Linked DNA regions of Homo sapiens: all the other regions are linked to region 2. Evidence: fine-mapped expression QTL. A gene starts in region 2. Each other region holds a variant in brackets. All regions are shown on one strand. Distances are between the middles of the regions. Region 1 has its middle 130 kb from the start of MMUT. Region 2 holds the start of CENPQ (centromere protein Q). Region 3 overlaps GLYATL3 (glycine-N-acyltransferase like 3).

What was found. PIP is the estimated chance that this variant, and not a neighbour inherited with it, causes the effect.
Region 1: its variant is the best candidate, but not a certain one, in a credible set for the expression of CENPQ in whole blood (INTERVAL, PIP 0.72).
Region 3: its variant is the best candidate, but not a certain one, in a credible set for the expression of CENPQ in whole blood (INTERVAL, PIP 0.59).

What each region holds. Positions count from the first base shown.
Region 1 is chr6:49,323,970-49,334,411 of GRCh38, forward strand. No RefSeq gene overlaps it. Among named protein-coding and RNA genes, the nearest start is that of MMUT, 130 kb to the right of the region's middle. The variant A/C (reference allele first, on the strand shown) is at 5,167.
Region 2 is chr6:49,460,240-49,469,916 of GRCh38, forward strand. CENPQ (centromere protein Q) reads left to right here and starts at 3,131. Exons shown (of 9, transcript NM_018132.4): 1 at 3,131-3,214. MMUT (methylmalonyl-CoA mutase) reads right to left here and starts at 3,014. Exons shown (of 13, transcript NM_000255.4): 1 at 2,864-3,014. RefSeq lists enhancers at 2,197-3,097, 2,684-2,753, 3,098-3,997.
Region 3 is chr6:49,520,681-49,531,122 of GRCh38, forward strand. GLYATL3 (glycine-N-acyltransferase like 3) reads left to right here. Exons shown (of 6, transcript NM_001010904.2): 5 at 965-1,091; 6 at 5,808-7,398. The coding sequence ends at 6,234. Among named protein-coding and RNA genes, the nearest start is that of C6orf141, 25 kb to the right of the region's middle. The variant TTTG/T (reference allele first, on the strand shown) is at 4,528.

The DNA of each region.
Region 1 (10,442 bases), 140 kb before region 2:
ACTGCTGGTGGGAATGTAAATTAGTACAACCACTATGGAAAACAGTATGACTATTCCTTAAAGAAGTAAAAGTAGATCAACCTTTCAAAGTAGAACGTCCACTGCTGGGTATCTACCCAAAGGAAAAGAAGTCATTCTATAAAAGACACATACACACATGTTTATAGCAGCACAACTTGCAATTGCAAAAATATGGAACCAACCTAAGTCTTCATCAATCAACATGTAGTTAAAGAAAATGTGGTATATACACCCTATAGAATACTACTCAGCCATAAAAATAAACAAAATAATGCCTTTTGCAGGTACTTAGATGAAACTAGAGGCCAATATTCTAAGTGAAATAACTCAGGAATGGAAACCAAATATTGTATGTTCTCAGTTATAGGTGAGAGCTAAGCTATGAGGATGTGAAGTCGTAATAATGATATAATGGACTTTGGGAACTCAGGGGGAAATGGGGGGGGGGCGAGAGACAAAAGACTACATATTGGGTACAGTGTACTCTGCTCGGGTGCTCTGGGTACACAAAAATCTCAGAAATCACCACTAAGAACTTATTTGTCTAACCAAAAACCACCTGTACCCCCCAAAAGCTATTGAAATAAAAAATAAATAAATGAGGAAAAAATTACCACTCATGATTTAGAAAATACCAGATATACACCATATATAAAAGTGATTCATGTATTGGCACTAGCAGTCAAGGACTTTAATTATGATTGGTAACGCCAAGAATATAGAGACAAATATAGAGAAAATAGACAAAAAATGGACAATGTAAGAGGATTGAAATCTATAAGAAAAAAGAAGTAGACATTCTAAAGCTGATTTTAAAAATATATTGATTTAACAAACCAGTGGGTGAGATTAATAGCACATTAGATATAAGAAAGATTGGTGTTACCAAAAATTAATAATTAAAAAGTGTTAAAAGACAGAAGTACAAAAATGAATAACACATAAAGTAATGTAAGCAATATGTGAAATAAAGAGAAAAGATCTAGCATACCTATAATTGGAGTTTCAGAATGAGAGGAAAAAGAGAATGAAGCAAACACAATATTTAAGATAAAATGGCCAAGAGTTTCCAAAAGCAGATGAAAGACACTGACACAAGGATTTAAGAAATTCAGCAAAACATAAGTTTAATACATAAATGTAATATGACTACAGAAAAAACAAAATTACATTTAAGATTTCTGTCTCCTCTATTTCTTCCCTCTTTCTCTATTTTCTTATGGTTTTCACCAGATTATTTTTATTTTTTATTTTAAAGTTACTCACATACTTTAATCCCACCAGACATTTTTCAATTTCAGTTTAAAGTTTGAAAGACTTTAAGGGTAAACGATCAAATGACACTCAACATCCAATCAAATAGCTATTAACTAAAGCAATTACATTTTATGCCCAGTATTCTTTCAGAACACTTAGAAAGCTAAATTAATCAATATATAATAAGTGCTAACATTTTAATTCAAAACTTTTGGAGTAATCCAAGTTTATTAAGACAGTTTTGCAGCCCAGCTACTTATGATCTACAATTTGGGGTAGGCTGCAGGGAAAAAGAAGGAGAGTGGCTAAGAAACTGCACTCCACATTTGAAGTTGATAATTATGCTTACAGTTCTGAATATCTCTGTATTAGTTCATTTTCACACTGCTATAAAGAACTACCTGAGACTGGGTAATTTATTTAAAAAAAAAAGAGAGGTTTAATTGACTCACAGTTCTGCATGGCTGGGGAGGCCTCAGGAAACTTAAAATCATAGCAGAAGGCAAAGGGGAAGCAAGACACATCTTACATGATGGCAGGTGGGGCAGGGGCACAGGTGTCACACTTTCAAAACATCAAATCACGAGAGAACTCACTCATTATCATGAGAACAGCATGGGGGAAACCACCCCCATGATCCAATCACCTCTCACCAGGTCCCTCCCTCAACACTTGGGGATTACAATTTGAGAAGAGATTTGGGTGGAGACACAAGTCCAAACCATATCAATCTCCTATGGGGACAATAGCAGAAAGCAGAGGAAAATCTCAGTGCTAAAGGAAGTGAGATTACTTCATAACACACCCTGATGATGAGAGGTTATATTGTGTCAACTTCTTAACTTATACATGTAACTGAGTGATGACACAAAGAAGTAAATGCCATTGAAAGAAAGTTTTTAATACTCACCATTTCCCCTGGTAATGAGAGGCATAGCATACCATACAGGCTACCCAAAGTCTGTCATATGCATGGGTAGGAAAGCAGACAAACAGAGGAACTGGGACTATACTTGTATGACAATCGTGGAATAAAGTAACTAGGTGGAAATGTTCCCTACTGGGAACTAAGAGGAAACAGGCAGGTCAGGGTTAGTGGTTGGGAGGATTGTAATACAACTTCTGCATGTCCATGAAAGCTAACTTGCGGTAAAGATGTAAACAATATTGGTTGTTAGTTTGGCCCTGTGATCCAGCAGGCTTATGGAGAGGTTAGGAATAATAGATGTCAAATAGTCAACACAGAATCTGAAAATATGATTAATACAGGAGGAAATGTCTCACATTCCAATGTTCATGATGCATGCTTTCTTACTTCTTCCTGATTTTGTCAGCTTCCTTGTGCATGCTATAAATAGAGAATAATGAGTTTGTCCTTAAAAGGAGAAAGGTTTCACAATATGTTCGTGGTGCTTTACTGATAAGGTCAGCCCTTTTTTTGTGTATGTATAGAACATTGTAGTTCTGGTATTAGTGACCTTCATTCATTAATTCACTTATAAAGTATTTATTAAAACCTACTATGTGTTAGACATTGTGCTAGATGCCAGCAATACAACAGGCTCATAACATCACTCCTGCTTTCAAAAAGCCTCCTATCTAGTGAGAATAGAGATAGTCATACAGGTGATTAGCTTATAGTTTGGTTAAGTGGTGAAACTTAGAAGAAGAAAAATTAACTTGTAGAGGCCTTTGTAAAAGTACTTTATGAGAATTGGTGGGGTTGGATCCACATTATTATGGGCTAAATATTTGATGGTCATATAAAAGTAAAAAACTTAAAATGCAGATAGTTTTGGCTATACTCTCAATCACACACTGTGTATTTGTTTCCACAATATTGTTTATCAGTTGTAATCTCTTCTAATAGTGGTCTTGTTCATGCTAGTTTGAAGTCTTTCAAAAAGCTTACATATAATGAGCCAACTATAACACAATATGAATCATAAAATATGTAAAGTGAAAGTGCTACAGAAACACAAAAGATAGAACTATCGTATGACTATGTCTTTTGCTTAGGACTGTAAGAAATCATCCCATATTTTTTATGAGTTTTTTGCAAGTCTCTGCACTAGGAGGTGAATTGATAGATTTTATTTCATCCTTCACTCATTTTAACCAACTCACCTGAGTTGATATGTTTTGCAGTGCCTAGACCAGCTTGCTCTGCCTAATGAGCATGATTTTAGGTGGCCCTATCTGGTTATCAGAGGGACTTTCATTTTCAGCTCCAACATGTAAACAGTTTCAAAGTTGTCACTCCCATTATTACAATAAGAAAAAGGCTGAACAAACTTGAAATCAACAAATTTTCTCAGATGCATCAGAGAATTGAAGTAACAGGGCAAACCCCAGACTCTGGAGAGATTGGAGAATACAGAGATTCATAGCCAAATACAGGCAATCACAGCCAAGATCAATTTAACAGGAACAGAACTGTTAGGCCACAAACTGGTGTGAATACTTAAATAGTAATTTTGATGAATTGCTGGAGACTAGTGTGAAAGTGACAATTCCGAGGGTTTCAGTCCTAGAGCGACTCCCATATTTTCACAGGTTTTACCTAATGGAGTCTCACTCTGTAAAGATTTTTTTTGAAATCCTCATATTTATGGCAAAGGAAAGAATAAAGTAACCATTTTGAATAAAATCCCAGGGCATTTTCCATAAGAAAGTCCTACTCTCAGAAGGAAATCTTTACCAGGTCCATATCTGAACTGGGAGAAGGCCAATTACCCCACTCCAGCTCCATTTAGCCTTCCTACCTCATCTAAAGGGTGGAAAGGAAGCTAAGAAATATTCCTGAAAGGCAACAGCCCAGGGATGGAGACACACAAAAAGACTGAGTCCCAATTGCAGTATAATAGAACACTTACCCACCCACTCACACACACACACACACACACACACCCCTTACCATCACATCAACAGGACTCCTGTATAATAACAATGAATACAACTAAAGGAACAGCAGATCCTAAATAAAGCTCAGATCCTAAATAAAAAGGAGTCTCTATGGAAACACAAAGACAACAGAGGATACAAAAACCAGGACTCTAGAGGAGTCTGACGCTCTGGCTCCTACAGTCACAGCAAATATTGAAAACAGCCTACCTTCTAGCCAGATAAACATAACTTCTTATGCCAAAGACCTATTTACCTCAGTTCTTATTACCTAATAATCATATCTGGCTTTCATAAAAAAATACAAGGCATGCTAAAAGGCAAAAAAGCACAATCTGAAGAAACAAAGCAAGCATCAGAACCAAACTCAGATATGACACAGAATTATCAGATAAGGAAGTCAAAATTACTTTGATTCTTATATTAAGATCTCTAATGGAAAACATAAAAATAGATATGCAAGAACAGATGAATAATGTAAGCAGAGAGATGGAAACTCCATGAAAAAAAAAATGGAAAGAAAATTCTAGAGATCAAAAACCCTGTAACAGAAACAGAGAATGTCTTTGATATGCTCATTAAAAGACTGGACATGGCCTAGAAATGAATTAGAGAGCTTAACCTATTTCCTATTTAGGAAAAAAAAAAGTGCAGCTTGCTGCCAGCACTCATTTAATTTTACATAAACATGATCTTTGAGGCTGGAGCAGATCTGACTGATTTTCAATGTGAAAATAATGTATAAAAACTGTTTTTGGAGTTATTTCTAAACAGAACTTGTCTCTAATCCTAATATAACAGAAATGTATATGATGGTTACAGACAATTCTTGGAGCAAATGGAAACTGGGTTAAATATATGTCTATATAAACTTGCCATACTGGATATTATAATTGCATATCCTCAATCAGCAACACTAGTTCATGGGCCCAGACAAAGAACTTAAAAGAAATGAATTGGACACAGATTTAGTGGTGAGAGAAA[A/C]GAAGAAAAAGCAAAATTGGCAATTAAGGGTATAATAAGGTTAAAAATTTGGGAAATAATATAAGATTAAATCAAGTAGGGCCGAAATGGTATTTATATGAATAATTTGTAATAAAAGTTAAATGCACTAGGTAATTATACAAAATACTACTTCACTTCTTTGGAGAAATGAGCCTAAGCTAATCTTTCTTAGATGATAATGTCAAGGCATTACACTTCAGGCCATTGAAAAATATTCTGGATATATTATCTGTTGATGGCTAGGAAACATTTTTTAATTTATTTTAATTCTGTGACACGTTGTTTCTGGCAGAGGAAGAAATAAAGTAACCATTTCGAAAAAAATCCCAGAGCATTTTCCATAATGAAGTCCTACTCTCAGAAGGAAATCTTTACCAGATCCACATCTTTCTCTCTCTCTTTCTCTCTCTTTCTCCTCCCCCTCTTTCATTCTTTCTCCCTCTCACTTCTCTTTTTTCCTTTTTGCCCTCTCTCTCCCATCTACTCCCTACCACCAAAGAAATCAGGGGTTTACCTTCTTAAGACCATACCTCATTTTCTCCTCTTGTACTTTACATTTATTGGGCTTTCAAATACTCAGAAGCCCTGTTTTCTAGTTCTTCACAGTTAACAATAAAATCTTAATTATACATACAAAGACACTAAGAAACAAAGAGATAAAAACAGCCTCTTTAAGATTACACAACTGTAAATAGAAAAGCTAGGACTCAAACCTAGGAGTCTTCATATAAAATTCATGTAATTTTTATCTTACTATGTTGCATTTCATATCTGCAGGGTTCCTCCTGCCACTTTATCATCCTCAGTATCATATACTAAATGTAGATTTCAATATGCATGACTAGTAGAAATGAATTTTTAGTTTTATGTTATGAAACTCCAATCAACCTGGATAGCATAGCTACCAAAGTCAAGCATTTCTTGCTATTTTGAAAAAGTTCATTTAAACTTTACTAAATACTGAGTTTAACCCAAAATCCTTCCTGTACACTAAGACAGCCTAGATGACTCCTCCTCAGTATAAAGGACTGGGCATGTTTAACATTGCTAGGACAATGCTATTTAGAGTTTAGGAGAAGCTAGCAGGACACTTTGACCTGGTGCCGTCCACCTTCCAAACACACTCAACTATTTCATATAGACAGAAATATAGTTTTAACCCCTGAACTAGTGGCGACATCTTTTCTCTCCTGAGGCTGAATTATGGATCCCTCACATCTTATTTGAAACACATTTTTACCACCCTTTGTTCTGCTCAACTCCTCACTTTCTCTGTTAAACTATTTATTTCAGTTAAGTATATCACAATTTATAGGCTATATTTTTCAGTTCATCTTGACCCAGGGTCCTGGAGAGTTTCCCTTATTCATTATTATTTTATAAAACACTCACTATATTCTATACCATGGGCTCAGTGCCGTGTAGAAAATACAAACAAAGCTCAGCTCTTGCCCAGAGAGGTCAAAATCTGCTAGAGAAAGTGGGCATATGCATAGATAATGCTAGTACTGGAATATAAATTTCCCAAGAGAAACAGAAGAAGAACTCAAGAGTTTTTCCCCAAACGTTCTTATTTCCTTCACTTTAATATTTACTACCCTTGATGGTACCAAGCTTAATTTTACATGCAAACATGTTTGGCTATTTCAGCATCAGAAATTATTTAGTAAAAAATAACCATAAATAAAAACCAAGTGACATTTTCAGTATTTCACTTCTTAACCAGAATAATCTTCATCCACATAAGGATGTTACAGAGGGAAAGATATCATATAAACATCACATTTAAGCTTCAGAAATGGTTTCAATTAAAGAAATGCTATTATCTCCTAAGCCCAGCCATTTAAATTCTATCAGAGAGTCTTGGCATTGTTTTGCTTAATAAACACAGTTTCTAAAATAGTGCAAATTAATTGAGTGTATTTAGTTTATACATATGTTGCTGCAATAGAGCTTCACAGTAATAAGTATAATTAACAAGAAAATAGCAGCAAGGCATAGAGAACCCTATAATTTCCAACCACTTGTTATTAGTACCCATAAGAAATACCTCAAAGTTCATTATCTCAAATTTTCATGAAACTAAGTGAGTATAATTAAGAGCTCAACAGCTCCTCCATTTGTTTGTTAAACAGGGTCTCATGAGCCTCACTGAAAGAGGTATGATTTAAGAATGTTTTATTGGAAAAAATATCAGGCTGAGCAGATTTTTATAACCAAAGTGTTCAGAAAACATACATACCATGTGCAAAAGATAAATAAAAAACTAAAAAGACAATGGTGTTTTGCTAATTTTAACTTCATTAACTATTAACTGCTACTAATATCTAAGATGTTCCTCCCTTTGAAAAATATGAGTATTTTCAAAAGAGGTCTGGACTCAGCAAAATTTGTGCATTGCATATTATTTGAGTTAACACACAATGTTTATAAAACTGTTTGGAAAATTAACAAAATAAAAATTCAAGGCTGAAATTCAGCTATAAGACAATGGCTTTATTGGAGATTCATGACTAATACTTTGAAATGTATATGGTCTTTCCTCATAACTCATCTTAGGTTTCAAATGTGTTGTGTTTCTGAGGGTTGCTCCTGGACTATTCCCATATTCAGTAGATGCCATTGCCTCCATATTGTGATTGCTGTTAAGCTAAAGACAAAACAGTCAAGGAAGGGACAGACCGGCAAGCAAAATATTCAGGAAAGTGCATGACTGGAAATCATGGATGAGAAGCAAAGAGGTAAAAATAACCTTTAATTATAAGTATATATACACACACAAACAAACATACATGCAACTGGTAAAATGAAAAACCAAGGCTCAAAGCCATAAACCTGAATCCAAAATTCATATGACAGTCTCCTCAAGGATGGCTCCCAAAGATCTTTGCCATTTAGGATTTGTAATCTTGTTTCCTCCCTGCTCATATTGTGGCAAAGTTGGTCTTTGTGATCAATAGAATGTGGCAGAAATGACGGTATATCATTTCTGATAATAAGTGTTAAAAAAAAAAACACGGTCCCATCTTGGTTGCTCTCTCTCTCTCTCTCTCTCTCTCTCTCTCTCTCTCTCTCTCTCTCTCTCTCTCGGATTATTTACACTGAGAGAAGCCAACTGTCCTGTCATGAACAGCGCAGTAGAGAAGCCCATGTTGTAAGGAACCACGGTCTTTAGCCAACAACAGCATAAATGATCTTAAAAACAAAGCAGATCCTCCCAGTCCAGTCAAGCCTTCAGATGACTTCAGCCCTGATCAGCAGCTTGACTGGAACCTCATCAGAAACCCTGAGCCAAAACTATGCAGTAGCCACTCCTGGATTTCTGACCTGCAGAAACTATGAGATAATAAATATCTATCACTTTAAACTTCTAAGTTAAGGGAAAATTTGTTATGCAGCAATATATAACAAGATAACCATGGGCCAAATTTTAATAAAAAGGTCTAATAAATGTGCTGGGTGATGTTCATATTATATACTAATATTAGAAAAACAAGAGTTTTACAGACAGAGCTAAGACTGGTCTCCAGGGTACTGAGCCACATGGGAAAACATGGGCAAGAACCAGTATTTGCAGCCTTAAATTCAAGCTGGGAAAGTGAATTTGTTAAATGGATTCTGATTATAAGAAAATAGATCTAAGTTTTATGTTCATAGGAGATGAGGAATCAGGCATGGAGAGGTGTAGACTAATCCTTTTGGAATAGCATGATCTTGCCCTGCGTAGAAATCCAAGCTTATCTCATGCCAGGTCTCTCTCAGTTCATCCTGTTATAGTCACATTGGGTTTCTATTGTTTTTTAAGAAAGGCCAAGCCCATTCCTGTCTCAGGACATTTGAAAGACTCTACAACCAGCTCTTAGCATAACAATCCCTTTTCCCAACCACATTCTGTGAGTACATCCACATGCTAGTATTCCTCTTCCAAAATTTATCACAATTGTTTGTATATTTATTTACTTGCTTCTTAACTGTTATTAAAAATTAATGAGGGCAGATATATTTTCCCTTCTGTTCACTTCTATATTCACTAAGCCTTACATATTTCCTGACATGTTGAAACTACTAGGAAAGTAACTGTGGAATCTTATAACAGGTGATTCCTTACAACCAAAGGTATAATAATTGCTAATCTCAAAAATGGGGGGTATTCGCCTTTGGCCTGCACTATAATACTTTATGGGAGCAAATGACGTTAGCAGGTAATGTGTTTCCCAAATTCTCCTGTGCTGAGGATTTCAAGGGAGTACTGTTTTCTCTAAGGTAAGGTAGTGGTTCTCAAATGGTAGTGTGTATCAGAATCACCTGAGGGGCTTGTTAAAACACAGATGACTAAACACCATCCCAGAGTTTATGATTCACTTGGTCTGGCATGGAGTTCCATGAATTTCTATTGCTAACAATTTTCCCAGTGATGCTAATGCTGCTGGTGCAGTGATCACACTTGGAGAACCACTGATCCAAGGAACATTCACCATACCCAGTAATATTTACATATGTTCTTTATTTCACCATACCCAGTAATATTTACATATGTTCTTTATTACTCCCATACTTGTTAAAATGGAGATAAGCAAATAGTAACACCATTTACACAGCCACAACTTATGCTTTCTTCCTGCTAAACCTGGAAAAATTAATGGATCTCTGAAAAAGGAAGATGTGGAAAAAATGTAACTTTAAGCCAGGAAAAAAATGTTCACAGGCTATCTCATCTCTCAGTAAAATAAATAAAACTCATATTCCAAGAAAGTAGCTTACATAGAATTGATATCATGCCTCTTGGAAATGCCAACAAAAGACATCTGTGAGTCATTACGTGACCAAATTTTGTGTGGGATTCGGAATTTGGGTAGACATATGTTACAGAAAATTCTACACATTTCTTTAAAACCTATATTTCTATGTCTTCTGTTCTAATCGTTATGGAGATTTTATTATTATTAAAATTTAGACATTATTCATCTTTAAGTCCTTGGTCCTTAACACATTTTTTTGTTTATTTAGTGGATTACTTGTTTTATATTTTAATTGATAAAATTGTACATTTTATAGGGTATAAAATTAAAACAAAATTATAAATTTACAGTTATACTAAGACAGGAACATTGGGCACAGTAGAAGTGTGAGTAGGACCTATATTATATCAGTAATAAGCATAGTCTTAGACATGAACCACTAAGGATAATAGGGATAGTAATAATGATAATCTTATACATGAATCATTCTGTAAATGCCCATTGTTGTTATTTCTG
Region 2 (9,677 bases):
TTAATCTTTACAATACCCCTAAGAGGTAGGTACTATTATTATCCTTATTTTACAGATTAGGAAACTGAGGCACAGAAGAGCCAGCATTGATTGGAACCTATGCAGCCTGTTTCAAAGTCCTTGCATTTAACTAATATGCACACAATTCATCCCAGAACCCATAAGGTGAGCTAAATGGCCTCTTCAATAATCTACTTCTGTGCTAGTTTATAAACTGCTCCAACATTAGAGCTGCATATTCCGGATAACTAGCATAGACTTTTATACTAGGTTGCTGGGTTCAGCGTCATCATTTTCCAGATGTAGAAACTGAGGCTCAGAGAAATAAAGTCGCTTGATCAAAATCCCACCTCACAAAGCCGTAAACTGTTTACCTGAATTACTAAAACTTGTCAGAGTCATACAGCGTAAACATATAGAGCCCATTGTTTAAAAAGATATTGAGATGCAAACATTAATATATTCACTATACTATGTGTTTTATACTGGATAAGGCAACAAGTAAAGGGAGTTTCAAATTTTATTTTCCATACCACTTCTTACCTATCAGTTTAGTAAAGCTTAAATGAAATCAATACTCAACACTTATTATGGGGTCGTTAAACAAGAGACATAAACCACTGGTGACAGTATTAACTATTTTAACTACTTTGGAAAGTAAATTGTCAATATACATGAAATGCTTCAGAAATGTTTATGCCATTCCACTGAGGAACATTACTCCTGGGAAAGCTTCTGTAGTAATATATAAAATAGATGTTTCCTATAGTTTTATTTGTAATAGAGAAAACTTAGGAAAATCGTAAGTATCTCATAACATATGAATAAGTGAATTACAGCATATACAAATGATAGAATTTCATGTAGTTATCAAAATATGTTTAGAAAGCTGGCAAAACTAATCTTTGATGTCAGAAGTCAGAAGAATGGTTACTTAATGGTTGCTAGAATACAACAGGAGCAAGAGAGGGGCTTTTGGGGGTAATGGTCTTGATCTGATTGCCACTTACATAGATATATTCTGTTTGTGGAAATTCATCAAATTATACAGTTATGTTTTATGCAGTTTCTGTAAATATATGTATAAGTAAAAAGTTAAAAATGTGTTATGCATAGTTTCCCAAAAAAAGAGAAACAAACTCAAAAAGTAGTAAGTAAAAGACTCAAGACACGTAATTGTAAGTGCAACAGGTTCAACTATGTAAAAAGTACATAGAACAAAGTCTAAATGGAAACATAACAAAAAAGGCTGGGCATGGTGGTTCACGCCTGGAATCCCAGCACTTCAGGAGGCCGAGGCAGGTGGATCACCTGAGGTCAGGGGTTCAAGACCAGCCTGGCCAACACGGTGAAACCCAGTCTCTACTAAAAATACAAAAATTAGCTGGGCATGGTGGCGCACACCAGTAATCCCAGGTACTCAGGAGGCTGAGGCATGAGAATCACTTCAACCCGGGAAGCAGAGGTTGCAGTGAGCAGAGATCGTGCCACTGCACTCCAACCTGGGCAACAGAGAGAGACCCCGTCTCAAAACAAAACAAAAAAACCTTCCATTTTTTTAATACTAGCACGATTTTTATTCTTTAAATCCATGGGGTCCTTGTCATCCATCTTTTTGCAAGCCATCCACTACATTTACTAGCTTAAAAGGTGGATGAAAAAAATAATGAAGCAACAACTAAACTGTTTCAATAGTAATCCTGTAAAAGGTAATTTGAAAACCACCTGAGACTAAACTGTTGGCAGGAAATATCACACTCATTTCACGTGGGCTTTCCTAAATCTGAACAACTAATAGGAAAGAGCCCCGTTTAAGTGACTTCCTGAAAATCACATGTGAATTGGTGGAGGCTGGAAACAGACACCATTTTTAGATAAAAACACAACTACTGCGGATGGCAATACGACCTCTGAATTTTCTCAGAAGACCATCAAGAGAGGCCTCAAGCATTCAAAGAAGCAACATGCAAAGCAAATATGTTACTGACAACTAAAATGAGTTAAAGAGCAATGATTAATCCCACCCCCACACCTCAAAAACAAATCAGTGAGAAAAAGATTTCTTGAACCAATAAGTTTCAAGCTTTGGCTGCTGACGTATGATTGCACATTAATACTTCAAGAAGGTACTTTGATGTTCAACTAGTTGGGTTTGGAGATGGAAACATAGGGCATGAAAATTATATTTGATATTAGCATAAGTACATCATTAAACACAAAATTATATTGGCAGAAAATCATCAAGTGGTTTAAAACTTTACACACATACGTTATCCAGGGCTTCGAGCTTCCCTAAGACCACCTTCTTTCTAGATAAAACTGAGAACGAGTTAGTAATGTAAGCTTTTATGTCAATTTAGACCTGTCTTTTCTATTCTACCTCTCACTCTTAACACTGTTTACACTCTTAATCCTGTTTACACACAGAAAATCACTTTTATTCCCGAAAACTCTTAGAAAAACCCTGACAATAACATAACCCACAACCTAGAAGGGAGGCAGCCATGAAGCAGGCGCATCCCTTTGGAACCATACAAAAAGTGACCTCTGCCAACGGGAACAGTTCAGGGTGCTTAAGTGGCCAAAGAAGATACCGACATGGCCCCTAAAGTATTAAAAGCACCTTCTTTCCAGAAGTACCTCCGAATTGCCAGGGACTTCGCCCAAAACTAGAGGTTGGTCGAAGTGAAAATCTAAACCTAAGGAGAAGGCAGAGAGTGGGATCCCGTCACAGTAGGAAGGTAAAGAAGACAGAAGTAAAGGACAGAGCGGGAGAGAAAGGACAAAAGTTCAAAATACAGGGGTAGAGGAGGGACAGGAGCCAGAAGAATGGAGCGATCTGAAAGGTGTACGTCCTACTCACTGGTAGGCCTGTTTTGGACTCCGCTGTGGGAGAGGGCGGCTGCACTTCTGCGTCCCCCGCCTCACCTGTCAGACATCCACACAGCCAGGCCTCCCCGCCCTCACCAAGCCCACACAAACCGCGCCACCGCCAGCGTCAGCCGGACGACTCTGGGGGCGTAGGCCGACACCGCCCTCCCTCCAGCCAATCTAATAGCGCTCTCATGGGCGCATTCCTGATGACGTTTAGGGGTAGGGTTAGATGCCCGTTTCCGCTTTCTTCCCACCCACTTCCGGGTCTCCTCTGTTTACGAATGTTTGGGCGCGAATTACTCTAAGCGCGGCTCTCAGAAGGGTGCAAGAAGAATCAGTGGTGAGTCGTGATATCCTTAACCGGCTGGGTGGATCTAAAGTTCAGGGATGAGTTTTAAAGCCAACGCGTTTGTGGCAGACTCCGCAGTTTGCATTTGAGGATAGCGAGGGGGGATTGCTTACGGGGAAATGCCCGATGTCCTAAAAGATCTGCCCTTAGGATCCTGAGATTGAGATGTTTGATTAGGGGGGAGGGAGCAAAGCCATGAATACTTCCTATTTCTCCCGAATCATCCTCATGGCTCATCCTCATTGCTAAATTTCTCCCGCGGGCACTAGTGAAGTCAAGTGCAGCCTTGGACATTAGTGTCTGTGTTTCTCCAGGAGTCCTACTCACTCTTGTGCCCACATAGAGGTCTAAATTGAGGTAATTGAGTCCCATGAGTATCAACAAGCTGGTAAGAAAAACAAGACAACCTAGAATGCCTCCCTCTCTCCTAAAGCATATAGTCTGGCGGCAAACTACTGTACCAGCCTTATTTCTTTTCACTTCTCCTATACACATTAAAAGCCTCGCTGGATTATCCTGTCCCTGAACACGCCAGGTTTTTTGTGTTTTTTCCGAGCTTTCCTGCCGTCCGAGTTTTACTGTTTTCCCTTGGATGCTTCATTTTTCTACTTTTTGGCTAAATATTTCAAAATGTTATTAGAATAATACTTTTTCTATGAATAATGTACAAACATACTTCCGAGATATTGCGGGGTCGGTTCCAGACCAATAAAGCCTGTCACACGATTTTTTTGGTTTCCCAGTGCATATAACAGTTGTATTTACACTGTATTGTAACCTATTAAGTGTGCAATAGCATTATGTGTAAAAAAAAATTACATGCTGTAATTTTAAAATATTTTATTGCTAAAAAATGCTACTAATCATCTCAGCCTTCAGCAAGTCCTAATCTTTTTGCTGGTGGAGGGTCTTGCTTGATGTTGATGGCTGTTGACCAATCAGGGTGATGGTTGCTGAAGATTGGAGTTGCTGTGGCAGTTTCTTAAAATAACAAAATAATGAATTTTGTACAGCAGTTGACTCTTCCATTCACTAAAGATTTCTCTGTAGCATGTGATGCTGTTTGAAAGCATTTTACCCACTGTAGAACTTCTTTCAAAATTAGAGTAAATCCTCTTAACCCCTACCATTGCTTTAGCAACTAAGGTTTTGTGATATTCTGAATTCTTTGTTGATATTTCAAGAATATTCACAGCATCTTCACCAGGGGTAGATTCCATCTCAAGAACTTCGCTCATTCATAAGAAGCAACTTCTTTTCCACTAGTTTTATCATGAGATTGCAGCAATTCAGGTACATCTTCAGGCTCCACTATTTCTCTTGCTATTGCCACCAGATCTTTCATCACTTCCTCCACTGAAGTCTTGAACAAAGTCATGACCTTTACAAAGTCATCCATGAGGGTTGGAATCAACTTTTTCCAGACTCCTGTTAATGTTGATATTTTGACCTCCTCCCGTGAATCATGAATGTTCTTACTAGCATTTGGGATGGTGAATCATTTCCAGAAGTTTTCAATTTATTTTGCCCAGATCCATCAGAGGAATCACTGTCTAGGGCAGCTATAGCTTTACAAAATGTATTTCTTAAATAATATAACTTGAAAGTCAAAATTATTCTTTGATTCATGGGCTGCAGAATGGATGTTGTGTTAGCAGACATGAAAACAGCATTAATCTCCTTGTACATCTCTATCAGAGCTCTTGGGTGACCAAGTACGTGGTCATTGAGCAGTATTATTTTGAAAGGAATCTTTTTGTGAGCTGTAGGTCTCAAAGATGGGCTTAAAATACTCAGTAAACCGTGCTGTAAACAGATGTGCTGTCACTCATGCTTTGTTCTTCCATTTCCAGAGCACAGACAGAGTAGATTTAAAAGAATAAGAGCCCTAGGATATTTCAGAATGGTCAATGAGCATTGGCTTCAAGTCACCACCCATATTAGCCCCTACAAGAGAGTCAGCCTGTCTTTTGAAGCTTTGAAGCCAGGCAATGACTTCTTTCTAGATATGAAAGTCCTAGATAGCATCTTCCAATAGAAGGCTGTTTTGTCTTCATTGAAAATCTGTTGTTTAGTGTAGCCCCTTCATCAATTATCTTACCTAGAACTGGATAACTTGCTGCAGCTTCTGCATCAGCACTTGCTGCTTCACTTTGTACTTTCATGTTATGCAGATAGCTTACTTCCTTAAACCTCAGGAACCAAGCTCTGCTAGCTTCAGGCTCTTTTGCTACAGCTTTCTCACCTCTCTCAGCTTTCATAGAATTGAAGTGAGTTAAGACCTTGCCATGAATTCGTCTTTGGTTTAAGGGCGTGTTGTGGCTAGTTTGATCTTCAATCCCGGACCACTCAAACTTTCTCCCTATCAGTAATAAGGCTGTTTTTGCTTTCTTATCATTCATGTCTTCACTGGAATAGCACTTTAAATTTCCTTCAAGAACTTTTCCTTTGCATTCACAGCTTGGCTAACTGGTGTAGTTTCCAGCCTATCTTGGCTTTTGACATGCCTACCTCACCTTGCTTAAACATTTCTAGCTTTTAATTTAAAGTGAGAGAGGTGTGATTTTTGCTTTCACTTGAACACTTAGAGGCCATTGTAGGGTTATTAAATGGCCTAATTTCAATATCATTGTGTCTCAGGGAATAGGGAGGCCTAAGGAGAGGGAGAGAGGCAGGGAACAGCCAGTTGGTGGAGCAGTCAAAACACAACGCAACATTTACCTATTAAGTTCTCTGTCTGATATTGGCATGGTTCATGGTGCCCTAAAACAATTACAGAGTAACATCAATCACCATAACAGATATAATAATGAAAAGGTTTGAAATATTGTGAGAGTTATCAAAATATGACACAGAAATGTGAAGAGTGAGCACAATCTGTTGGAAAAATGGCATCAATATAGTTGTTCAGTGCAGGCTTGCCACAAACCTTTAGTTTGTAAGACAACAACAACAAAATACAGTGTCTGCGAGGCTCAATAAAGTGAAACACAATAAAAAGAGTTATGCCTGTACATTCTTACCCATAGCACAAACCAGTTTAAGACAGTCATTCGCTCACTTGCCTCTTTATAACATTTATAAATACACATAGTAATTATTTTCATATCTGTCTCTACCTGTGCACTATCACTAAGCTGTGGTTTCCCTTGGATCTAAGAATGGGACAAAATACCTATTCATTTTTATATGCACTGTGAGTAGCCCAGAAGTGATAGAAACAATGTCTTTTGTTTATTGGATTCTTACTATGTCTCAAATACCGTTCTAGGTGGTTTATATATTCTTTGTTACATCATTTTTGCTTTACAAAAGCCTTTAATGTTAGTACTTTTATTAATCGTTTTACTAATGGGGAAAATGAGTTAATTTACTGGCCCAAAGATATACAGTTAATTAAGTGGCAGGGCTAGATTTGGAGCTTGAACAATTTACCCTCGTTGCAGGACTGCTCTTAACCATTATGGTAGTGTTCTCAACCTGGGTTGATTTTGACCCAGGAGACATTTGGCAATGTCTGGAAACAATTTTGATTGGCTCTACTCAGGGGTTGGAAGTATTCTAGCATCTGACGGTCTACGTAGACCCAAGCATGCTGCTAAACATCCTACAATACACACCACAGTCTCCACAACAAAGAATGATCCATCTAAAATGTTAATAGTGCTGAGGTTGAGAAACTTTGTGCTATAGTCTAGTGCCTCAAGTAGGTTTCATTGTTAACAGTACTTCTCAAACTCTGTTAGACCAGTTTTGCTTTTTATTTCTAATCAGTCATAACTGATACTTTTGTAAAATGCAATTAAAAATCAATTATTAGTCAAACTCCCTTGTGGTATAATACCAGGAGTGAACTCTGATGTAAACAATGGATTTTGGGTAATATGATGTGTCAACAATTACAGCAAATGTACCAGTTTGGTGTGTGATGTTAATACTAGAGGTTGCAGGGAATGGGGAAGGGCAGGGATTATATAAGAAGTTTCTGTATGTTTTGCTCAATTTTCTGTAAACCTAAAACTGTTCTGAAAAAAGTCTTTTTTAAAAAAATACTAATTACTAGAAAATGATATGGCAAAGACAAGGCTAATTATTTTATGATAAGGTTCAATGTGCATAAAATTACTCTATCAAATTGCTACAAAAGTTTCTAAATGATTACCTTCAATTTCCACACTTGATTATGGCAAACAGTTTGAATGAGATTTGGAGTAGCGCTAAATTACATGTTATTTTAATAAAGAATATCAAGAAGAAAATGATTAATGGACCCAAGCTATAAATAAGTACCAAATGAGACAGAGCAAAAGAGCCACAGACTTAGAGAGAAATGAAGTAGAATAGTTAGGAAGATTTTGAAAAGAAGGTGGCTCATGATCTGAGAGGGTGGGCAGAGACAGAAGAGAGCTGCTCAGGTAGAAGGTACAGTGTATGTTTGGGAGGCAGAATTACTCAAAGTGTGTTCAGGAAATCATCAAATCTAGCTAGAGAGGGAGATTTGATTAAGGAGTAGTAGGAGAGAAGTATGAAAAGGTAGGCAGAGTTAGGTTGGTAAGGACTAAAAATGGCATGGTAAAGAGTTTGAATGTTACACAGAACGTATTGGGGTAAATTTTTTACTCAATTAATTTGTTCCAAAATTTGGGATTGGGAGGGACTAGGCAGGGCTTGCTCATGTCTTGTCCACACAGTGTGGGCTGCAGCATATTGACTTAGGTACATGTACCAGACTGGCCAGTTGGTGCTGGCTCTTGGCTGGGAGCTCAGCTAAGACTTTCCTGGGGTTTCAGTTCCTCTCGGTGTTGGCCTTCCTCCTATGGTGGTGGCTGGGTTATAAGAGCAAGTGTTGGCCGGGCTCAGTGGCTCACGCCTGTAATCTCAGCGCTTTGGGAGACCGAGGCAGGAGGATCACTTGAGGTCAGGAGTTCGAGACCGGCCTGAACAACATGGTGAAACCCCGTCTCTACTAAAAATACAGAAAATTAGCTGGGCGTGGTGGGGGGTGCCTGTAGTCCCAGCTACTTGGAAGGCTGAGGCAGGAGAATCGCTTAAACCTGGGAGGCAGAGGTTGCAGCAGTGAGCCGAGATCGCACCACTGCACTCCAGCCCAAGCGACAGTGCAAGACTTCTTAAAAAAAAAGCAAGTGTTTCTAAGCAAGAAGAAGTCAAAGTTGCCAGTCTCTTCATGTCTAAGCCAGTAAGCTAGAACAGAATCACTTCTACTATATTCTACTGCTCAAACAGCTTCAGAGTCTGCCAAGATTTAAGACAAGGGAACATAGACCTTACTGCTCATTAACAATCATGAGAAGGAATGTGTACCATTTTTAATCTAAAATCTCAGCTGTTACTTGTCCCTTCACCTGGATGCTCTTATTCAGTGAACAACTTGAACTATTGTACATGTCAGCCCTTCCAGGAGAGATCTACAAGTGAAATTCTGTCATGTGGATGGGTTTTTAAGTAGGGGAAGTATAAGGGTGTAGATGTAAAGTTGAGGTAATTAGGCATTTTAGAAATTGAACACAAGATAGAGAATGAGTGTTTGGTAAGGTATCACATTGTTCAAGAGCAGGGTAAAGTGATATTTTGACTTCCACTGCTTTTTGTAACTGGTGTGATATGTGGTTGCTAAATGTAGTTTGTGATCTTTCTGTTAATTCTTTCCCAATTTTTTTTCCAGTCTTGTGTGGAGGGGAGTTTGAAGCTTTTAACGTTTGAGAGGATAGATTTATCATTGTCTTTCTCTAAATCTGCACATATATTTAAACTGTATCAGTATAATAATTCTGAATGTTTAGAAAATAAATGATGAATAATTTATCTGTATATCTAGCTATGGCTAATATGTGTATATGTTTATATGTGTATATATATATTTTCTAGGCATATATAGCTAATATGTGCATATACATATTTCCTTGTATACTGCACCTAACTTCTATCCACTTCTTATGGTGTAATGCAAGAATAAGTATTTCATTCTTCTGTTCCTTTTATCAGAAATTAGTTTGGTAATAAAAGAGGGAAAATTACTCTAAATTTTATCAACATCCCCATTTCCAATCCCATGTCTGTTTTGTAATTTGTGGGAGGGCAGGGTATTCAGTACATTTCTGTACTCTTGTTAAAATGCACATAGCCCAGATAGGATTGCAGTTTAAATTCTTAATAGTGTCAGACTAACACATGAATTTCCACATAGATTGATGGTATAATCCTAAAAAGTGTCTCCTTCCATTTTTGGCAAAAATTGGGTAATGGTAAATTTATTACTTAAAATAACAAGACCTAGGCTTTACTCCTTGAACTGACATTATCTGTGACTACTTTATATTTCTATTTCCTTGGACTTAAACATGGAGAGGATGTTATCATACGATAGAGTATAAAATAAGAGATACAAAAGCATTTTTAAATGATTTTCTAAAATCCATACAAACGGAAGTTAATT
Region 3 (10,442 bases), 61 kb after region 2:
AAGGTGGAGAAAGGAATCATACTATAACCTCTCTAAGAACAAAGACCAGGAAGGGCCAGGCATGGTGGATTATGCCTGTAATCCAAGCGCTTTGGGAGACCAAGGCAGGAGGATCACTTGAGGCCAGGAGTTTGAGACCAACCTGGACTTATAGGGAGACCCCATCTCTACAAAAACAAAACAAAACAAAACTTAAAAAATAAATCAGCCAAGTGGTGGCATGCACTCAGGAGGCTGAAAGAGGGGGATCATTTGAGCCCAGGAGTTCATGGTTATAGTAAGCTATGATCATTCCACTGCACTCTAACCTGGGCAAGAGAGCAAGACCCTGTTTCTAAATAAAATAAAGAAAAGAAACCATACCATTTTTGTGTACCACTATGAACATTGTCTAGTACAGTACTTTATATATATACAACACCTACTGAATCAAGATTTATCAAATAACTATGACAAGTGGAATCTGGGTGAGGTAAGTTCAGGGTAAATCTCACCAACACTGAGTTACACCTTGAGTTCTGTAATGGCGAGGTGTAATAGAGAGTCTTTGAAGTTGGTTTGCCACGCCAAACAAATCTAAGCTCTTGTATACTTCATAGACTTTTAGAGCTCTAAAATGTCATCCTTTATTTCGTGGAGCTTAAGGTTAGTCCGAGAGTCCAAAGTATCAATATTCTCCCAAGAAATTCTAAAGTCCCGTGAGATATTCCCATCATAAGTTTCTATGAAGATCGTGATGAGTGGTCCCAATGGGCAACATCATGGGAATTTGAAACGCCTACAAAAATTTGAAACTTAGACAATAGCTGTAATAATTTAGATGTAAGTATACAGTGGTTAGGATAATACAAGGTGGCAAACTGCTAGTATTGATGATTCTCAGTATAAAATTACTGCAACAAATTTCCTTTTTGCTTTTTCAACTAAAATGCCCACATATTAAATTATGTCTTTCTATACACAGGGCTGCAGAGTGAGTTATATGATGTTTCCAAAGCGGTTGCCAATTCAAAGCAGTTGAATATAAAGCTAACTTCCTTCAAGGCTGTTCATTTTTCTCCTGTTTCATCTCTGCCAGATACCAGTTTCCTGTATGTAAACCAAGTTTTTGCATTTGGGGCAGGACTTACTGCTATAGAAGTACACGTAGCAGTAACTGGGGTACTTAGTATCACTATGGAATATCCAGGCACTCTGGATTTCAACCATTGAGCACAAACGGGAGTATGTGTGTGAGTGTGTGTGTGTGTTTACTCTTCTCCTCTCTCCTGTGCTTGACTGCTCATAATTTCATTGAAAATCAAATCAGTATATTTGTCCATAGTTATAAATGAACTCAGAATTCCTGTGTTTTCATAGTATCCATGGAAAAAGCATTCCTTGGTGTCCTTATCCCTCAAATAATTCTAAATAATATATACTGTCTGAGTCCAAAGTTGTTATTGATTTTGCTGTTTCAGGGATGGGGGTATATAGCTGACTTATGTTGCGCTCTTATGTGTCAGGGACTACATATCTTAAATATATTATCCCATTAGTTCTTTCCACAACCCTGTGAAGTAGGACTATTATTATTGCCCCTCCCACCCCCACACACCTTTTTAAACAGAGATGAAGTAACACACAAGGGCAAATTATAGAGCCAAGAAAGAATCCCAAGTCCAACTCCAGATGCAATCTTTCAAAACACTCATTAGTTTGTATCTGCATTTATTCTTCTTTTGGAGTCCCTGCTCTGTCATTTACTAATTACCTTTCTGAGTCTCAATTTCTTCTGAATTCGTTCCTTTAAGTGTTTTTTAAATTAATATCATTTTAAATCAACAAATAATAATTGTACACATTCATGGGGTACAATGTGATGTCTTGATAAATGTATATACTGTAGAATGATTAAACCAAGCCAGTTAATATTAAAAAAAGTTGTAATATTTTCCTGACACGTTGTTTTGCAAGAGACTGAAGCAAGATAGTTAAAAATCACCCACCTCAACGAATGTTAATTTTCTTTACTCCTACAGTGAATGTTGAAGAAATTGTTGAGCAAAACAGCACTAAACCTTAAGAATGTACATTTTAAGTCATAGGAAAGCAACTGGATTTTCTTTTATTGTATTTCTAATTATGAAAATTTCAAACACACATAAATGTTTAAAGGATAGTATAAAGAACCTCCCACCAATACATAGCTGACCTTATTTAATTCATACAACTATATATTCTTTCCACTTCCTGGATTATTTTGAAGAAAATGTCCCAGACATTATCCTTAAATATTTTAATATGTAACTCTAAAAAATGAGTCTTAAAAAAAAAACACCCACTATACGGATATTACTCCTGTGTCCGAGGTCCCCAAGAACACCCACAGGTTCTATGGTTCACTATATTGACATACAGGACTCAGCAAATATACTCACGGCTATGATTGATTACAATGAAGAGATAAAATGCAAAATCAACAAAGGGAAAGGGAGCATTGTGTAAAGTCCAGAGGAAGCCAGGCACAAGCTTCCAAGAGTTCTCTCTCAGTGGAGTCACACAGAATGTGCTCAGTCCCTAAGCAATGACCTGTAATGATATGTGTAAAACGTTTCAAACTCCTGGCCTCAAGCAATCCTCCTGTCAGGGCCTCCCCAAATGATGGGATTACAGGCATGAGCCACCGTGCTCTGCTAAAAGTTGTCTACCACGGAAACTTATTATTAGACACTCAGTGCCCAGGATTTTATTGGCAGCATCCTCTGCCTAGCACAGACTGATTTCCTAGACTCGCAGAAGGAAAGCCAATGTTCAGCAAAACCCACACTGTTTGCACAACTTAATCACAGTGAGCCATTTATGTGAGTCCTGGAAATGGTAGCCCCCCTCCAGATCCATGTTCTCAGACACCAACCAAGGGTCAACCTTGCAATTCGGCCTTTTTAAGGGCGATGGCCTCAAGCCTTCTATGTTAGTCTTTTCTGCACATTCCCTTAAAATACTGTTAACATATTTCCTTAAAGTAAAATAACATTATTCATATTTCCGATATTGTCGTAATATTTTTAAGCTTGTTTTGAATCAACATCTAAACAAGGTTCATACATAGACCTCTTTAATACATCTGAAGTTTCCTTTGACTTATAAGTTCCCCTTCATCTTTATTTTTTGCATTACTTTTCTGTTGAAGAAACCAAGTTATTTGTTCTTTGAAGTATCCCATAATCTGTTTACTATTGTATGCCTGAGGTATTATTTTAAAATTTCCTCTGTCCAGTCAAGCCTTTTGAAATGGGGTTTTAACTTGAACTCTTCTGCATACAGTTAGACATTTTGTCTTTTTTTTTTTTTTCTTAACTTCCCACACAACACTGATGCAAACAATTTGCCTTTAACACCTAAGTCATTACTCAACTGCGTGAACTCTATTTTGAACACCCAGCCCTTTGGAAACAAGGTCAGAGTCTCTAACACAACTACTCCTGAAACACTTGCCTTAGCAATGATTTTATTTGCAGTGATATTTCTGCCTGCTTTAAAGTTCATTTTCAAAAACTCAATTGAAAATTCCATTAGGCCAGCTAATTTTTTCCCCCTGCTTAGTGGATAGATGACTGGCCCAGTTCCATAGCTGATAATATGCCTGAAATGTGCAATAACACTACACACCTCTAATTAAAAGAAAACACAAATTTTTACTTTATAAAAATGATGACAAGAACATTATCTCTTACCGGTCACTGGGGATAGTCTTATGATATTAATAGCTTTAAGACTGAGAGCAAATTCTGAGGCACTGTCAGCCTCATAGGCTTTCAACTAAGTAATCCATTTCAGTTTTGAGAAATTGCAGCAATTCTTTTTCTTTATCTTAATATCAGGGGCTTTATATAGTAAACTAATAAAAACTTTCATACCATTAGAATAAATACAGTGAAAGCTAGTGGCCTATACAAATACTGCCAATGGAAAAGTTGAAGGTTGGTACTATTTAACCTAGAAAACAGCAGGCCGAGGAGACAGTTTTAAAGAACAAATATGGCCAGGTGCAGTGGCTCACACCTGTAATCCCAGCACTTGCCGAGGCGGGTAGATCACCCTGAGGTCAGGAATTCGAGACCAGCCTGGCCAACATGGCAAAACTCCATATCTACTGAAAATAAAAAAATTAGCTGGGCATGTTGGCACGCGCCTGTCATCCCAGCTGCTTGGGAGGCTAAGGCAGGAGAATCGCTTGAACTCAGGGGGCAGAGGTTGCAGTGAGCCACTGCACTCCAGCCTGGGCAACAATGCGAGACTCCCTCTCAAAAAAAAAAAAAAAAAAAAAAAGAACAAACATTTCTAAAGCATGCACATATGCTTGGCATATTAAGAGATTTTATTTCTTTTTTGGCCATGGATGCATAACCACAGAAGTTCTATTCTAAAACATTTTTTTTTTTTTTTTATTGAGCAAAAGATTAGGGCTTCAAGAATCTGGACTTACCAAGGCCTCAGAGAGGATTTCAGCAGAGTCAGGACTAAATAAAAGCAATTCTGAGGGTT[TTTG/T]TTGTTGTTGTTGTTGTTTACAGAAAGTGTTAAAAGAAAAACTTTAGACAGATTAAATTTAGCAACGTTGGTCTGGGTGCAGTGGCTCACACCTGTAATAATCCCAACACTTTGGGAGGTCTAGGATGTTGGATCACTGGAGTGCAGCAGTTGGAGGCCAGCCTAGCCAAAATGGTGAAACCTTGTCTCTACTAAAAATACAAAAATTAGCCAGGCGTGGTGGCACACCTGTAATCCCACACGCACGTGAGGCTGAGATACGAGAATCGCTTGAACCGGGGAGGTGGAGGTTGCAGTGAGCCGAGATTGCACCACCGCAACTCCAAACTGAGAGACAGAGCAAGGCTCTCAAAAAAAAAAAAAAAAAAAAAAAAAAAAAAAAAAATTCAGCAACGTTTATTTGAGCAAAGAACAGTTCATGAATCTGGCAGCACTCAGAATGAGAAGTTCAGAGTTATACCCACCAGTGGGAGATTTTATACGCCAGACACAGAAGCAAAGTAGGTAAATCCTCTGATTGGCAACAGTTAGGTATATTTGGGCATGGTCTGCTCACTTACCTGCCTGTGATTGACTTGTATAACAAACTCAGCTGTGCATTATAGTTCTAGGGTTGGTTTTGTGTCAAGTTAGGTTGCAGTTCAACACGCGGGGACTCAAGGTATGGAGGGAGCTGCAGGCCAAACTTAATTTATTTAACAACAGAAACACTTTCCTTAACCTGTGCTGAAGGCAAAAGCAAGTGAACATAAAATTAGAAGCAACGACTTAAATTTGATGTAATAAGTGTTTTGTCTTCTCAGAAATGAAACCCGGAAAGGTGTTGGTAAATCGGGAATGGTGGATTCTAACTCACTGAAAATCTTAGGTGCCCTCTCAGGGATGGTTTCTCAGTTTGAACCAATATGAAAAGAGTAGTTATAGGTCGGGCATGGTGGCTCACGCCTATAATCTCAGCTCTTTGGGAGGCCGGGAGGGGTGAATCACGAGGTCAGGAGTTCGAGAACAGCCTGGCCAACATCGTGAAATCCCGTCTCTACTAAAAATACAAAAATTAGCTGGGATGGTGACGGGTGCCTGTAATCCCAGCTACTTGGGAGGCTGAGGCAGGAGAATTGCTTGAACCCGGGAGGCAGAGGTTGCAGTGAGCAGAGATCACGCCACTGCACTCCAGCCTGGGCGACAGAGCAAGACTGTGTCTCGAAAAAAAAAATGTGTAGTTATGTATAACCACATGAGTCTGAGGTCCTATTTGTTTTTGTGTCATTCTGGTCTAGCAAGGGGCCTTCCCCACGACTAACCTACCTGAGTGTTGCCAATGCGGATCTACTCAACCGGACTTGGTCCCGGGGAGGCAATGAACAATGTCTCCGGTACATCGCCAACCTCATCTCCTGCTTCCCTAGTGTGTGTGTCCGGGATGAGAAGGGAAACCCGGTCTCCTGGTCCATCACAGACCAGTTTGCCACCATGTGCCATGGCTACACCCTGCCAGAACATCGCAGGAAAGGTTACAGCCGGCTGGTGGCCCTCACGCTGGCCAGGAAGTTGCAAAGCCGGGGATTCCCCTCTCAGGGGAACGTCCTGGATGACAACACGGCGTCTATAAGCCTCCTGAAGAGTCTCCATGCTGAGTTCTTGCCTTGTCGCTTCCACAGGCTTATTCTCACCCCTGCGACTTTCTCTGGCCTGCCTCACCTCTAGCCCAGTAAAAAACTGCAGTGGTTTTATTACTTTCCCTGAGCATACACACACTCTTGGCTGCCAACGAGGGGAGAGTTAAAATGGGAATCAGGGGACTCTTGAGTTGTTGGAAAGGGTCTGGAGAATATATACAGGATCCACTTGAGAAGCCTTAATTTTTCGTATCTCAGGTTTCTCCAGTAAATAGCTGTGGGGGTGAAGAGTAGCTGTGGCTGAAGACTGAGGACGATTGTCCTCCTGTAGGATCCACTGTAGGAGAATAGGTTCTAAAGCCAGCAGTTTTAGTGTACTAGGAGAAATTACTGCATGAGAACAAATGATTTAACAGAGGACCACGTGGCTACTGCTTTTTGATTGCTGCTTGGACCTCTGCTCTGTATTCTTAAAGCCACACCGCTTCCCTACTGCCATCATATTCCCCTGTCCCCACTGCTATGTCTCATCAACCTCTGTTCCTAACACCTCTGCCACCAAGTTCTCTGTAGAGTAACCTCCTTTTTCCCCTTTAATTACTTGCTCTTTACTTCTGCCTAGGACTCTAGCCTATAGTTCACTGCCCTGGGAATGTTCAAATATAGTGGTTCTTACATTTTAGTGTTTATCAGAATCACCCAGAGGGCAGGTTGCAACACACATCACTAGGCCTCTCCTTCTACGAGGTAGGGCCCAAAATTTGCATTTCTAACAGCTTCCCACTGCTTATTTGCCTTGGATGAATGACAATATGGGCATTTTGATGCTATAAACAAATGCTGTCACCATAGAACTAGACTTTACCTATAACCTATTTCAGCCCCCTTATTTATAGTCTACTTTCCCATATAAAACTAAGATTTATATATAGGGGTGTTTGGGGGTATGCAAATGAATATATAACATATATGCATACACATATATATACATTCTCTTCATTTCTTTTATATGTATAGGTATATACTCATAGAATTTTGATAAGATAATAAATTTTAACCCTTTGATTACATATGAAAAATTTGAGGACCAGAGAAAATAAATGACTTTTTCAAGATTATATTCTTTATAATCAGTACTGGAGGCAAAGCCAGAATGCTGCCATTTTAATTCCAATCTGTTATTTTCACTAAATCATGTATCCTTTTTTATAATGAAAATTAAAATGCTTACATAATTAAAATATTAATTTTAGTTTTCTCTTATTCTTGTCATTATTTCTTAATTTGGGTTCTGATTGCTTGTGTATGTATACCTTTCAAGGTCAGTAAAGAAAGAGATAAGCATCACCAGCTCTGTTCTCTATTTATAATAAAAGCAGGCACTAACACAATAGTTAGATTTGCCTTGTCTTGATAATGTTGACTTAGCTATATAGAAAATATTGGTTTCTTATCCCCAAGGAGGTCACAAAATTCTGACTACAAAGATAAGGGAAAATCCAACTTTCAGGCATTCATTCTGAGAAAAGGAAGCAAACTGGCTGAAGTAAAACACATTTTAATTAAAAAAATAGGACTCAGTAAGAGTAAATATATGCTTAGTTCATCCTGAGCCCACAGTTACCTGGAAACTTATCTAGCCTTGGATCCAGAGGGGAAAGCACCAAGTAACCAGAGTCCATAAACCTCTTAGGAGAATATGCCCTAAGGACGCTAATTATGTTTAGCATCGCTTAAGCATGAGTTAATCCTGCTTGATATATAGCAATATTATTATAGCCTTATTTTCTTCCTAATGATAATTTGCCTGACATTTAACGTTTAACTATGTGCTAATAATTGTACCAAATATGAGATGTATATAACTTAATCCTGGTGAGGGATAAGGTATTGCTTTGTTGTGGGAATTCTTGCTTAGAGGTGTTATGAGTCACCAAAGTCATGCAGGCTCTAAGTGGCCAAATCATGATCAGAACATGGGTTTGTTGGATTGCAAAGCCTATACTACTAGTCATTATGCTAATTGGCCTCTTAAGCAGCTTGGAACAGTTTGTAAATAATTATTCCCTTATCTCGTTACATTCTGAATTTTCTACCTTCACCCGCACCTCCAAAACAGACCCCATATTTGAAAGATTTTTGTTCCTACCAAATTGCTCTTATACTATTTTCTTACTTTCATCTTCCAGCTAACTATGTTGGATATAATTGCTCAACTTTTAACACTGTTTCTGACCCTTTTAAGGCATGTGCAGAGAAAGTCTGGAGTAAGGAGAGGACAAGGAGAAGAGAAAAACTCAAGAAGTAGAAACGGGGCCAGGCGTGGGGGCTCACACCTGTAATTCCAGCACTTTGGAAGGCCAAGGCAGATGGATCACTTGAGACCAGGAGTTAGAGAACATCCTGGCCAACATGGCAAAAACCCATCTCTATTAAAAATACAAAAATTAGCTGGGCATGGTGGCACATGCCTGTAAGCCCAGCTGCTTGGGTGGCTGAGGCATGAGAATCACTTGAATCCAGGAAGCAGAGGTTGCAGTGAGCCAAGATAGCGCCACTGCACTCCAGCCTGGGCAACAGAGCCAGACTGTGTCTCAACAAAAAGAAGTAGGAAGAGGCTTGATTAACATAGGTTTTATTTGTTAATTCAAGGAAATTCTTCAATGTAATATAAAAACCAAAAAAAAAGCCTTAAGCAGCGCATTAATCTGTTTGGAAATTAGTTGGGAGGCTATAAGCTAAGCAAAAGGTGGTGGTAGCTTGGATCTGAATGCTAGCAATGATAATGGTGAAAAGTGAACAGTTACTTAAACTATTTAAAAGGAAGAGTTGTCAGAACTTAATAATTTAGTGGCTGTAGGGTATGCTGAGAGAGAAATGTCAAGGATGACTACTGGGCTTCTACGTTGTGAAAGCCACAGCTGGTGATAGTTTTCACTGAGATCAGAAACCCTGGAAAAATCTCAGATCTGGAGCAATTTGTAGCAGGGAAAATTGTTTGTTCAGTTTTGGGATGTTGAGTTTTGAAACATGCAAGTGATGGGACCAAGTTGGATATTTGAGTCTAAATCTCAGAGAATTTATTTGGGATAGATGTATTGACTTAGATGATAACAGATATAGATATAGATATAGATATAGATATAGATATAGATATAGATATAGATATAAATATAGATATAGATAACAGATAACTGATATAGATGATAACAGAAGCCATGAATTTAGCTGAGGTTGTCTAGGACTGAACCTTAAATGCATCAACTATTTAAGGCAAGGGAAAAGAAAGGCTCTGGAATAGGAGAAGGAGCAGCCAGAAGATAGGAGGAAAGCCAGGAGATGACTCCCATGGAAGAGAAAGAAGAAAAATTTAAAAATGGAGGGATGGTCAATGGTGTCAAATTATGCTGAGAGGTCAAGAATACATTAGGAATGAAACATCTTCATTCCATATTTCACTCTCAAATATTTTAAACATATGTACCAAAAAGAAGCCAGAAACTGCATATTGCATAATCCTGTTTCTATAAAGTTTAAAACCAGGCAAAATGAATCTATATCTGTAGAAGTCAGGAAGTAATTACCCTTCAGAAGGATAGTAAGTAAAACTGGACATGAAATGGCTTCTGGATTTCCAGTAATATTCTGATTCTTGACTTGGGTGGGTTACAAAGGTGTGTTCACTTTGTAACACTTTGTTACACAGCTGTGTTCCACTTGGTAACACAAGTATGTTCCCTCCAGCCCTGACTTAGCCAGGCCCTTCCCTGCTGGGCTCAGTCTTTCCATAGGCAAATCTGCATGACTAACCACCTCCTCCTCGCCCCCTGTGAGTCAGGGCCTAGAGCATATGATTATCAAGCTATATAATTATGATATATCTACTTTTCTGTATGCAAGTTGTACTGCAATAAGGAATATTCGTTAATAAAAAACAGGCCTGAAATCTGGAAAAAAAATGCATATTTCCATTACATAAAAATCCCACTTTTTAAAATTTATATTGGTATAATATAAAAGTATGCAAAGATTTGTATAAAAGGATGTTTATTACAGCATTGTGTGTAAAGGTGAAAAAACCTAAATATTTTAAGTAATTCACTGGTTAAATATAGTACAAGCATTCGATGAAATTTTATGGAGTACTAGAAAACTAGGTTTGGTGATACAGAAAAGATGTACATAATAACACTAAATGCAAAAACAATTACAGAAAATATGTGTAATCCATTTGAAATTCAACTGTGAAGGTAAAGAGGGGGCAAGTATGTAGGTAAATAGTTTTGAAGACAGTTT